Homo sapiens: one gene and its partners. The protein of the gene in region 3 interacts with the protein of the main gene of each other region in a pairwise test. Each region holds a gene or a part of one and is shown on either strand. Other genes may lie near its edges. The genes, in order: BTRC, PDGFRL and MAP2K1.

Region 1 (3,728 bases), on a different chromosome or scaffold from region 3:
AAAGAAGAAAATGAGAAACTGATGGAGTAAATTTTTTTTTAAAAAAGGGAAGAAAACTGACACAGGAATAAAGTCAACATGTAAAAACAGAAGCAGCAACAAGAAAGTCGAGGGAATAATGGAGGAAGTTGACACGGGATGTATAAGTATTTGGAATTTCATGGGTTTATCATGGGATTAAGAGGATAAACATGCCCAAAGACAAGGGGATATAGTCAGAACTCTGAAGGATACTCAAAAGAGCGGGAATGGGTTTCTGTGGATAAAGAGATAGGGGAAAAAAGTGGTAATTAGTGCTGGATCCTGGATTACTTCACCTACCCTTTAGAAAGGCTCAAAAGCCATCTTCTCAATGATTGTTTTTTCTTTGTAACTAACATAAAAGATCTTGCCATTTAGTGCCAATCCCAAGCAAAACTGTGGAGCCTTTTACCTTTGGCATTTTCACATCCATCTGCCAAGAACTGCCCACTTACTTCTTGATCTTTCTGCCTTCAAAAAAGGACTCAGTAAACTCCCAATTTATGATGAAGGTTTACTGTCATTTACAGTCCAAATGGGAACACAATGTATTTTAACAGGTAACAGAACCTTTATAGCTAAAGGAATGAATCTCCTTAACTGAAATTTCAGGAGTTATTTGGAGACGAGATTCTTTTTTTCTGAGGGATACAGAAATCTTCTCAGCTGCCCTAAAATTTTCTCATGTAAGCAACTGCCTGCTGTATCCCCAAGGCTGGTCCCAGCACTCTTAGCAAAATGATGGACCCCGAATACCATATAACTCCATTTTTATTTGCTTTGTTGTACTATTAAAGAGTTTATTTCCAAAGTATGAAGTAGGTTATGAAAGATTTCTATTTTTCTATGTAGCGAAATAAGAATTAAAAAACATATTTGAGAAGTAGTAATAATATTCTTTTGTGTGTGTGTGTGTGTGTGTGTGTATGTGAGAGAGAGAGAGAGAGAGAGAGAGAGAGACAGAGAAAGAGACAGGGTCTTGCTCTGTTGCCCAGGCTGGAGTGCAGTGGCATGACCACAGCTCACTGCAGCCTCAACTTCCCAGACTCAAGCCATCCTCCCACCTTAGCCTCCTGAGTGGCTGGGATTACAGGCATGCGCCACCAGGCCCAGCTAATTTTTTGATTTTTTTGTAGAGATGAGGTCTCAATATGTTGCCCAGCCTGGTATCAAACTCCTGGGCTCAAACGATCCTCTTGCCTTGGCCTCCAAAACTGTTGGGATTACAGGCGTGAGCCACCCCACCCGGCCAACAATATTCTTTGTTACACAGCCTAAAAATTGCCTAGTTTTTTTGTTCCTTTAATTCAATTTGAGAGAAAAATTTAAACAGTCTTCCTAATAGCCAGAATGATAAAAATCTGAGGCATTTGGTATAATATTTATAGGTCATTGTATTTATTATGTGTTAATAAATTTCAAAGATAGAAAAAAAGAAAGAGAGCCAACTACTTTTTCATGAAAATTCAAAGGAAAGCTGGCCCATGAATATTTATCTTTTAAAAGTGTTCTCTACTTTTAACTGTTTTCCTCTTTATGATCCAAGATAAACAACTGATAAAATTAATTTGGAAGGACATCACTAAGCACACACATGCCTATTATAATTTTTTCTGTCAATGAGAATATTTAATATGTCACCTTTATTTGTGAACTATTACTACGTAGCTTTCCTATAGTGACATTCTAGAGACATACTCTGAGAGAAAAGTATTTAAAGAAAGATATCTTTCAGAAGTTCTAATGAAATAGTACTGTTAAGAGAACAACAAAAAAATTAGTGAAGTCTCTTAGACTGCTAACTATATGATGCTTTGGGGAATTCGGAATTAAGTCAGAAAATCTTGAAAAACAGAAGTCTTAAGAAGAAACAATGATTTATACTTAATTTCATTTTCACTTTTTCTGATGGCTAGAGTTCTTATTCCACTTGGGCTTAAAAATAATTTTTGATTACAAAGGTGACAAAACACCAGAGGCATAAGATAAAGGCAAGAAATTTTCTGAAAGAAACCTAGGGTTCATGCGATTCTCCTGCCTCAGCCTCTACAGTAGCTGGGATTACAGGTGCACGCCACCATACTCGGCTAAATTTTGTATTTTTAGTAGAGTTGGGGTTTCGCCACGTTGGCCAGGCTGGTCTCAAACTCCTGGCCTCGAGTGATCTGCCCACCTTGGCCTCCGAAAGTGCTGGGATTGCAGGCGTGAACGCACTGTGCCCAGCCACAGGATACCAACTTCTGCCCAGATAACAGAATGTTTTAAACAGGAGGGCTGATCAGCTTTCCATTATTTTTTGCAAAGCAGTATTAATACAATATCATGTCATTTTGTGAGTGACAGGTAAGAAGAAAAACTGCTGAGTATATGAACATTTGTTCTCTGTTACATTTTAAGCTAGAAATCAACAAAATCACCATATTAAATGAGAAGTGGTCTCATTGGCTCCCCAAAAATCTTTCAGTGACTGTGAATGGCCAGGTCCTGAAGCCGTATAAGAGTAAGAAAAGTTAAAGGCTCACCATCCTCTTCGTTCTGCCAGGCCTCTCCACAGAGAATCTGTCCTGACCATTCTCTCGATAAGCTTCTTCCACAGCATGCCATCAGAGGTCACTCGGTACCATTCCTTGCACACAAGTTCAGCAGCACATAGTGATTTGGCATCCAGGTATGACAGAATGTTCTCAGCAATATGATCCAATCCCCGAGCTTTCAGTAGGGGGAGGAGGCAAAGAAAAAGAACACAGAAGGTGGCGAATGATTTTTTACAAAAGGTCCTTTAAAACAGAACAGCATTTGTTCTGCTATGAAGGCACATCATTGTCCCTAGTGTGGTCCAGTTTCTTTTTCAAACAGAGGCTTGGGTAAAATGAGTGTCAATAATTTTTCCATAAGGTTACAGAAATGAACAGTATTTTCCATCTTCCTTTAGATAAGGAAGTTAAAGCTAACAACCAGCAAACCCCCCAAGACATTAAAAATAAAAAGGATTCCAGAAAACAATTCACATCTATCTATATGGATTTCAGCACTAGGGGATGTTCTATGGATGGCATCTCAAACTCTATGATTCAGACCCCCCCAAATCTCTATATTAGGTCCATTTCTCATTCTGTTTCTATTACTGCTGTAGTTCCAAAGCTGTTCGGTAAAAGAAATGTCCTTTAAATGTACTAGGGGAGAGGCACTAAGTCAGAATGTGCTGGGTTATAGAATTTTGGGCATGCAGAAAGGAGAGAAGAAGGAAATACAGAATGGCATGGAAATATCCCAAGAGAAAGACAGAGATGTATGTTTAAGTTCAAGAATGGGTTTAATTTCAGATTTAAAAAAACTATATTTGAGAGTAGCTGCTGCTATAAAACCTAAATGACAGTTGGGCAAAAATGAAAAAAAATTCCAGACCAAAAGATAACTTGGTTAGCATTTCAGAGAATATTTTGTAGGAGGTGCAGAGGAAAACAGTGGAGAACAGATCTTGGGGAGTGTAAACCAGAAGGGCTTCCCAATTAAAGTTCTCCACCACCCAAATCTGTACTGAGGTCTCAGAAGAAAAGATCCTATAAAATAGGATGATCTCACTAAAAAAACTTCTTTTGCCTGCTGTTCTACATTTACAACTGAGATAAAAACATTCAAAGTTATTTCTGTTTACAAAGTACATATCAGAGGTTTTCTACAGACTTAAATAGTTCAGAAGGATTCCT
Region 2 (3,728 bases), on a different chromosome or scaffold from region 3:
ATAATTGGTGTTCCTGAGGAAGAGGAGAAATCTAAAAGTTTGAAAGACATATTTGAGGGAGTAATCAAAGAAAACTTCCCTGGCCTTGCTAGAGAGCTACACATCTGAATACAAGAAGCTCAAAGAACACCTGAGAAATTCATTGCAAAAAGATCGTCACCTAGGCACAGAGTCATCAGGTTATCTAAAGCGAAGATGAAGGAAAGAATCTTAAGAGCTGTGAGGCAAAAGCACCAGATAACTTATAAAGGAAAACATGTCAGATTAACAGCAGATTCCTCAGCAGAAACCCTACAAGCTAGAAGAAATTGAGGCCCTACCTTCAGCCTCCTTAAACAAAAGAATCATCATCTAAGAATTTTGTGTACAGCAAAACTAAGCTTCATAAATGAAGGAGAGATACAGTCTTTTTCAGACAAACAAATGCTGAGAAAATTCGCCACTACAAACCCAGCACTGTAAGAAATGCTAAAAGGAGCACTAAATATTGAAACAAATCCTTGAAATACACCAAAATAGAACCTTCTTAAAGCATAAATCTCATAGGACCTATAAAACAAAAACACAATAAATAAATAAATAAATAAAAACCAAGGTATTCGGGCAACAAATAGCAAGATGAATAGAATAGTACCTCACATCTGAATACTAATGTTGAATGTAAATGGCCTAAATGCTCCATTTAAAAGATTCAGAATGGCAGAATGGGTAAGAAGTCACCAACCAAGTATCTGCTGTTTTGAAGAGACTCACCTAACAAATAGGACTAACATAAACTTATGGTAAAGGGCTGGGAAAAGATATTCCATGCAAAGGGACACCAAAGTGAGCAGGAGTAGCTATTCTTTTTGTTTGTTTTGTTTTGTTTGAGACAGAGTCTCACTCTGTCGGCCAGACTGGAGTGCAATGGCTCAATCTTGGCTCAATGCAACCTCCACCTCCCAGGTTCAAGTGATTCTTGTGCCTCAGCCTCCTTAGTAGCTGGGATTACAGGTGCAGGCCTGTCTTATAGAGGAGTAGCTGTTCTTATATCAGACAGAACAAACGTTAAAGAAACAGCAGTTAAAAAAGAGAAAGACGGACATTATGTAATGATAAAAGGACTTGCCCAACAGGAAAATATCACAATTATATATATATATATATATATATATATATATATATATATATATATATATGCACCTAATGCCAGAGCTCCCAAATTTATAAAACAATTACTGTTACACCTAAGAAATGAGATAGACTGCAACACAGTAATAGTGGGGAACTTCAATACTCCACTGTCAGCAATAGATAGGTAATCAAGACAGAACATCAACAAAGAAACAATGGATTTAAACTATAACCTAGAACAAATGGACTTAAGGGCTATTTGTAGAACATTCGACCCAACAACTGCAGAATATACATTCTATTCATCAGCACATGGAACATTCTCCAAGAGAGACCATATCATAAGCCACAAAACAAGTTTCAATAAATTTAAGAAAACTGAAATTATATCAAGTACTCTCTCAGACCACGGTGGAATAAAATTGGAACTCAATTCCAAAAGCAACCCTCAAAACATACAAACACATGGAAATTAAATAACCTGCTCCTGAATGATCACTGGGTCAAGAATGAAATCACGATGGAAGTTAAAAAATTATTTGAACTGAATGAAAATAGTAGCACAACCTATCAAAACCTCTGGTATACAGCAAAGGCAGTGCTAAGAGGAAAGTTCATAGCATTAAATGACTACATCAAAAAGTCTGAAAGAGCACAAATAGACAATCTAAGGTCACACCTCAAGGACTGGAAAAACCAGAACAAACCAAACCCAAACATAGCAGAACAAAAGAAATAAAGATCTGAGCAGAACTGAATGAAATTGAACCAAAAAAATACAAAAGATAAACAAAAAGCTGATTCTTTGAAAAGATAAATAAAACTGATAGACTATTAACAAAATTAACCAAGAAGATCCAAATAAGCTTCAGTTAGAAATGAAACAAGATATTACAACCAATACCACAGAAATACAAAAGATAATTCAAGGCTACTGTGAACAGCTTTACATACTCAAGCTAGAAAACCTAGAAGAGATGGATAAATTCCTGGAATTATACCACCCTCCTAGATTAAACCAGGAAGAAAGAGAAACTCTGAACAGACCAATAACAAGCAGTGAGATTGAAATGGTAATTTAAAAAACTGCCAACAAAAATAAGCCCAGAATCAGATGGATTCACAAATGAATTCTATCAGACATTCTAAGAACTGGTATCAATCCTATCAACATTATTTCACAAGACAGAGAAAGAAGGAATCCTCCCTAAATCATTCTGTGAAGCCAGTATCACCCTAATACCAAAACCAGGAAAGGACATAACAAAAAAGAGAAAACTATAGACCAACATGTTTGATGAATATAGATGCAAAAATCCTTAACAAAATACTAGCTAACCAAATCCAACAGCATATCAAATAGATAGTCCACCATGATCAAATGGGTTTCATACTGGGGTGGTTTAACATACACAAGACATTAATGGGATACACCACATAGAATTAAAAACAAAAAATCACATGATCATCTCAACAGACACACAAAAAACATTTGACAAAATCCAGCATCCCTTTATGATTAAAACCCTCAGCAAAATTGGCATAGAAGGGACATACCTTAAGGTAATGAAAACTGTCTATACTGAATGGGAAAAAGTTGAAAGCATTTCCCCTGAGAACTGCAACAAGACAAGGATGCCCACTTGCATTCAACATAGTACTGGAAGTCCTCGCCAGAGCAATCAGACAAGAGAAAGAAATAAAGGGCATCCAAATCAATAAAGCGAAGTCAAACTGTCGCTGTTTGCTGATGATGTAATCATATACCTAGAAAACCCTAAAGACTCCTCCAAAAAGCTGCTAGAACTGATAGATGAATTTAGCAAAGTTTCAGGATACAAAATTAATGTAAACAAATCAGTAGCTCTGCTATAAACCAACAGCAACCAAGCTGAGAATCAAATCAATAACTCAACCCCTTTTATAATAGCTGCAAAAAATATATATACTCAGAAATATACCTAATCAAGGAGGTGAAAGACCTCTGCAAGGAAAACTACAAAACACTGCTGAAAGAAATCATAGATGACACAAACAAATGGAAACACATCGCATGCTCATGGATGGGTAGAATCAATATTGTGAAAATGACCATACTGCGAAAAGCAATCCACAGATTCAATGCAATTCCCACCAAAACACCACCATCATTCTTCACAGAACTAGAAAAAACAATCCTAAAATTCATGTGGAACCAAAAAAGAATCTGCAGAGCCAAAACAAGACTAAGCAAAAAAAAAAAACAAATCTAGAGGCATCCCATTACCTGACTTCAAACTATACTATAAGGCCATAGTCACCAAAACAGCATGGTACTGGTATAAAAATAGCACATAGACCAGTGGAACAGAATAGAGAACCCAGAAATAAACCCAAATACTTACACTGATCTTTGACAAAGCAAACAAAAGCATAAAATGGGGAAAGGACACCCTATTCACCAAATGGTGCTGGGATAATTGGCAAGCCAAATGTAGATGATGAATAAGACTGAATCCTTATCTTTCACCTTATACAAAAATCAACTCAAGGTGGATCAAATACTTAAATCTAAGACCTGAAACCATAAAAATTCTAGAAGATAACAGTGGAAAAACCTTTCTAGACATTGGCTT
Region 3 (3,600 bases):
TCGCTTGAACCCGGGAGGCAGAGGCTGCAGTTAGCCAAGATCGCACCATTGCACTCCAGCCTGGGCAACAAGAGTGAAACTCCGACTCAAAAAAAAAAAAAAAAAAAGAACAAATGTTTGCAATGCAATAATGCAATCCAACTACCTATACAAGTCAGTATTATGCAAAATAGACCCCACAGGATTGAGAGGGGACTAAAGAAGAGAGTCTGTTGGGAGCAGGTCTGAAAAACACAGCTGAACACACACCACAGGTCCACCATCGACCTTGTGATCATTACAGGGATGGAACAAGTCATCAAGCCAACAGGTCCCCGGGTTATTAAAATCTAGAGAAAGTTGGCTGGGCATAGTGGCTCATGCCTGTAATCCCAGCACTTTGGGAGGATCGCTAGAGTCCAGGAGTTCAAGACCAGCCTAAGCAATATAGCAAGACCCCATCTGTATAAAAGTTTAAAAAATAAAATTTTCTAAAAATCTAGAGAAAGGAAGGGAGGTTACAGAAATCACCAAAGAGCATAAGGTCCAAGCCTATTCTGATTTCATCAATTAGCTTCCTAAAGTCTGCAGTGTGCAGGTAAAAGATTAAGAACCCAATCCTTATTGAAGGTTGGGCAAACAACAACCAAAAAAAGGCAAAAAAATAATAATAACCTAATCTTTTCTGGCTATTTCTCTAGCTAGCTAAGCAGCTTTCCCTCACATAGTCTTGTCCCTTACCTAGAACCCAAGAGAGTTGTGGGAGCTCAGAAACCCCCAGGAAACAGACTCATGATTATTTAATGAAATAAAGTGCTCGTTTGTAAGCAACGCTGGAAGCTGCAGAGATGGAGCACCTAGCATGTGGTTTCTAGGTCATGGTGTTCATGCCTCAGGTCAGGAGTTTAGGGGCTCCTGGTGAAGTACGGAAAGCTAGGAAATCATTAGTGAGAAAATGGTTTGTTCAATGAATGAATGAAGAGTAGGATGAAGAAGAAAGCCGCTTTCTTGAGCAATTTCCCAGGAAGGCCAAGTACCAGGAACCTCCAAAGTCAGCAAGGAAAAGCCACGAAGTCCACACGGACTTCCAGCACGCCCCCGCTGGCCAGGCAGTTGGCCTGCAACAAGGCACTCAGGCCCCACAGGTGTCAGGCATGAAGGTGAGGATGATGCTCCACACTTAATACCCTGAGCTGGTCTCAAAAGCACAGATGCGATCTTAATTCTTTCCAAAACATTAGCCTCCTCTCCCCGTTACAGGCCAGACTCCCAGATGATCACATTTAGAACAGAACTGGGAGGAGGCAGGGGAGACGTGCTAGCTTTTATTTTCTTGGGAGAAGACTGTACAGTGGCCAGGAACCACTAAAACGGTCGGGAAAAGGGGTACAGAGAGGAATGGAGACCCGCGGGATCCGCTAACTGGTCTGAGTCAGGAACACAATCAGTGCTTAGTCACCGATACCTCGGCGGCCGGGAGTTTCTCGCCCCCTGCCAGCCCCAGACGTACGTGACAAACCAGATCGGAGCCTGGCGCGCGCTCCTGCTCCCCGGCTCGGGCCTCCCCAGCCGGGCCCCGAGGTTCACCGCCCGCCCCATACTTACTCCGCAGAGCTGGTCCCGTTAACTGCAGAGCCGTCGGGGGCCGGGTTCAGCTGGATGGGCGTCGGCTTCTTCTTGGGCATTTTGGACCCGGGTAACGCGCTTCCAACTCCGGGGGGAGGGCAGCACCTCTCGCTTCCTCCCGCTGCGCTGCCCCGCGCCCGCTGCGCAGGACCAAGTCCGGGCCGCGGGCCCCGGGGCTGCCTTCAGCGGGTGCGCCCCGCGCGGTCCCGTCAGCGCCGAGGGGCCGGTAGCGGTCTCAGTGGACCCCCGCCCCACCCGCCCGGGACTCGGCTTCGCGCGCAGAGAGCCGAAAGGCTGCCCTGCAGGAGCGGAGCGGGCTGAACGTGCGGTTCGGCAGCCCGGGATTCCCTTCCTCTCTCTCTCTCAACCAACCAGTCCCTCCGGCTCGGGCGGCACAGCCGCGCGCGCACCAGAGCCCAGCTCCAGCTCCTGCCGGGGAAAGTGCCGCCGCCGCCGTGCTCCTAGCCGCTCTGCGAAGCGGCCCTGGGAGGGACTGGAGGCCGGGGGAGGGGCGGGGAAGGGGAAGCCTCGCCTCCCACCCGGGATGCGGCGCTTTCCACACTCCCACTCGGCTCCGCCCCTATTGCCTCGCAGACAACCAATGGGGGCAAGCCTCGGCGGCAGATGACGCGGAAATACGTCACGGGAGCGCGGCGCACTGCCTGGGGGCGGGGTCCGTCGCGGACGCCGTGGCGCCCTCTGTCGCCCCGAGGCAAGCAGGTGGACCCAGCTGAGAAGAAGTCTGTGTCGCTGTGTGGTGAGCTCTCCAGGCCAGGTGCCGCGCGGCCTCCACCTCTGCGGTAACCGGCCTGCCCCCGACCCCTGTCCCCAAGCCGAGCCGTGTTGACGAAAATGAAATAACAAAATAAATAAGGAAAAGGACCCCTTCCTGTGTCCAGAGGAGAGGCAGCGTGGGGAATAGGAAACTTGTCGAGAGGCTCCTTTGAGCCCAACAAACTGACGCATATAAATTTTGTTTGTTTAATGGTAATACTACTGAGAAGGGTGCAAGGAAATGGATACTCAGTGCTGATGAGATTGTAAATTGTTGCGACAGTTTTTGAGAGCAGATTGATGATTTTTTTTTTTTTAGACTTGGGAACTTTTTTTTTTTTAAGACGGTGTCTCCCTCAGTTGCCCAGCCTGGAGTGTAGTGGCGCGATCTCCGCTAACTACCACCTCTGCCTCCCACGTTCAAGCGATTCTCCTGCCTCAGTCTCCTGAGTAGCTGGGATTACAGGCACTCGCCGTCATGCCCGGATCCTTTTTGTATTTTTGTAGAAACGGGTTTTCACCATGTTGGCAATATTTTTTTAAAGCCTTAAAAACACTCTTTCGGGCCAGGAGCGGTGGCTCACGCCTGTAATCCCAATTTTGGGAGGCCCAGGCAAGAGGATCACTTGAGCCCAGGAGTTCGAGACTAGCCTGGGCAACATAGTGAGTCCCCCGTCTCTATTAGCTGGGCATGGTTGTGTGCAGCTGTCGTCCAAGCTACTGAGGAGGCTGAGGCTGGAGGATCACTTGAGCCCAGGAGTTTGAGGCTGCAGTGAGCTATGATCACACCACTGCACACCAGCCAGGGCTACAGAGCAAGACTCCCTTTAAAAAAACTTTCATCCAGGCCAGGCGCGGTGGCTCACGCCTGTAATTCCAGAACTTTGGGAGGCCGAGACGGGTGGATCACGAGGTCAGGAGTTCAAGACCAGCCTGGCCAAGATGGTGAAACCCATCTCTACTAAAAATACAAAAAATTAGCTGGGCGTGGTGGCGGGTGCCTGTAATCCCAACTACTTGGGGGGCTGAGGCAGAGAATTGCTTGAACTCGGGAGGCGGAGGTTGCAGTGATCCAAGATCACACCACTGCACTCCAGCCTGGGCGACAGAGTGAGACCCCGTCTCAAAAAAAAAAAGAACTTTAATCCAAAAATTCCAATTCTGTGAATTACTAAAGAAATAAGATGTGAATAAAGAGCTTAATAAGAGGCACAATACCCA

What was found.
Region 1: the proteins of MAP2K1 (region 3) and BTRC interact in binary tests that used the Homo sapiens proteins (3 or more experiments, as listed by UniProt).
Region 2: the proteins of MAP2K1 (region 3) and PDGFRL interact in a two-hybrid assay, tested with the Homo sapiens proteins (one large-scale study listed by BioGRID and IntAct).

The regions. Positions count from the first base shown.
Region 1 is NC_000010.11:101,525,015-101,528,742, reverse strand, and holds part of BTRC (F-box/WD repeat-containing protein 1A), read right to left. Parts: intron 2,731-3,728; coding exon 2,544-2,730; intron 1-2,543. UniProt on the Homo sapiens protein: Substrate recognition component of a SCF (SKP1-CUL1-F-box protein) E3 ubiquitin-protein ligase complex which mediates the ubiquitination and subsequent proteasomal degradation of target proteins. Recognizes and binds to phosphorylated target proteins.
Region 2 is NC_000008.11:17,636,189-17,639,916, reverse strand, and holds part of PDGFRL (platelet-derived growth factor receptor-like protein precursor), read right to left. Parts: intron 1-3,728.
Region 3 is NC_000015.10:66,385,412-66,389,011, reverse strand, and holds the start of MAP2K1 (dual specificity mitogen-activated protein kinase kinase 1), read right to left. Parts: upstream 2,101-3,600; 5' UTR 1,665-2,100; coding exon 1,585-1,664; intron 1-1,584. UniProt on the Homo sapiens protein: Dual specificity protein kinase which acts as an essential component of the MAP kinase signal transduction pathway.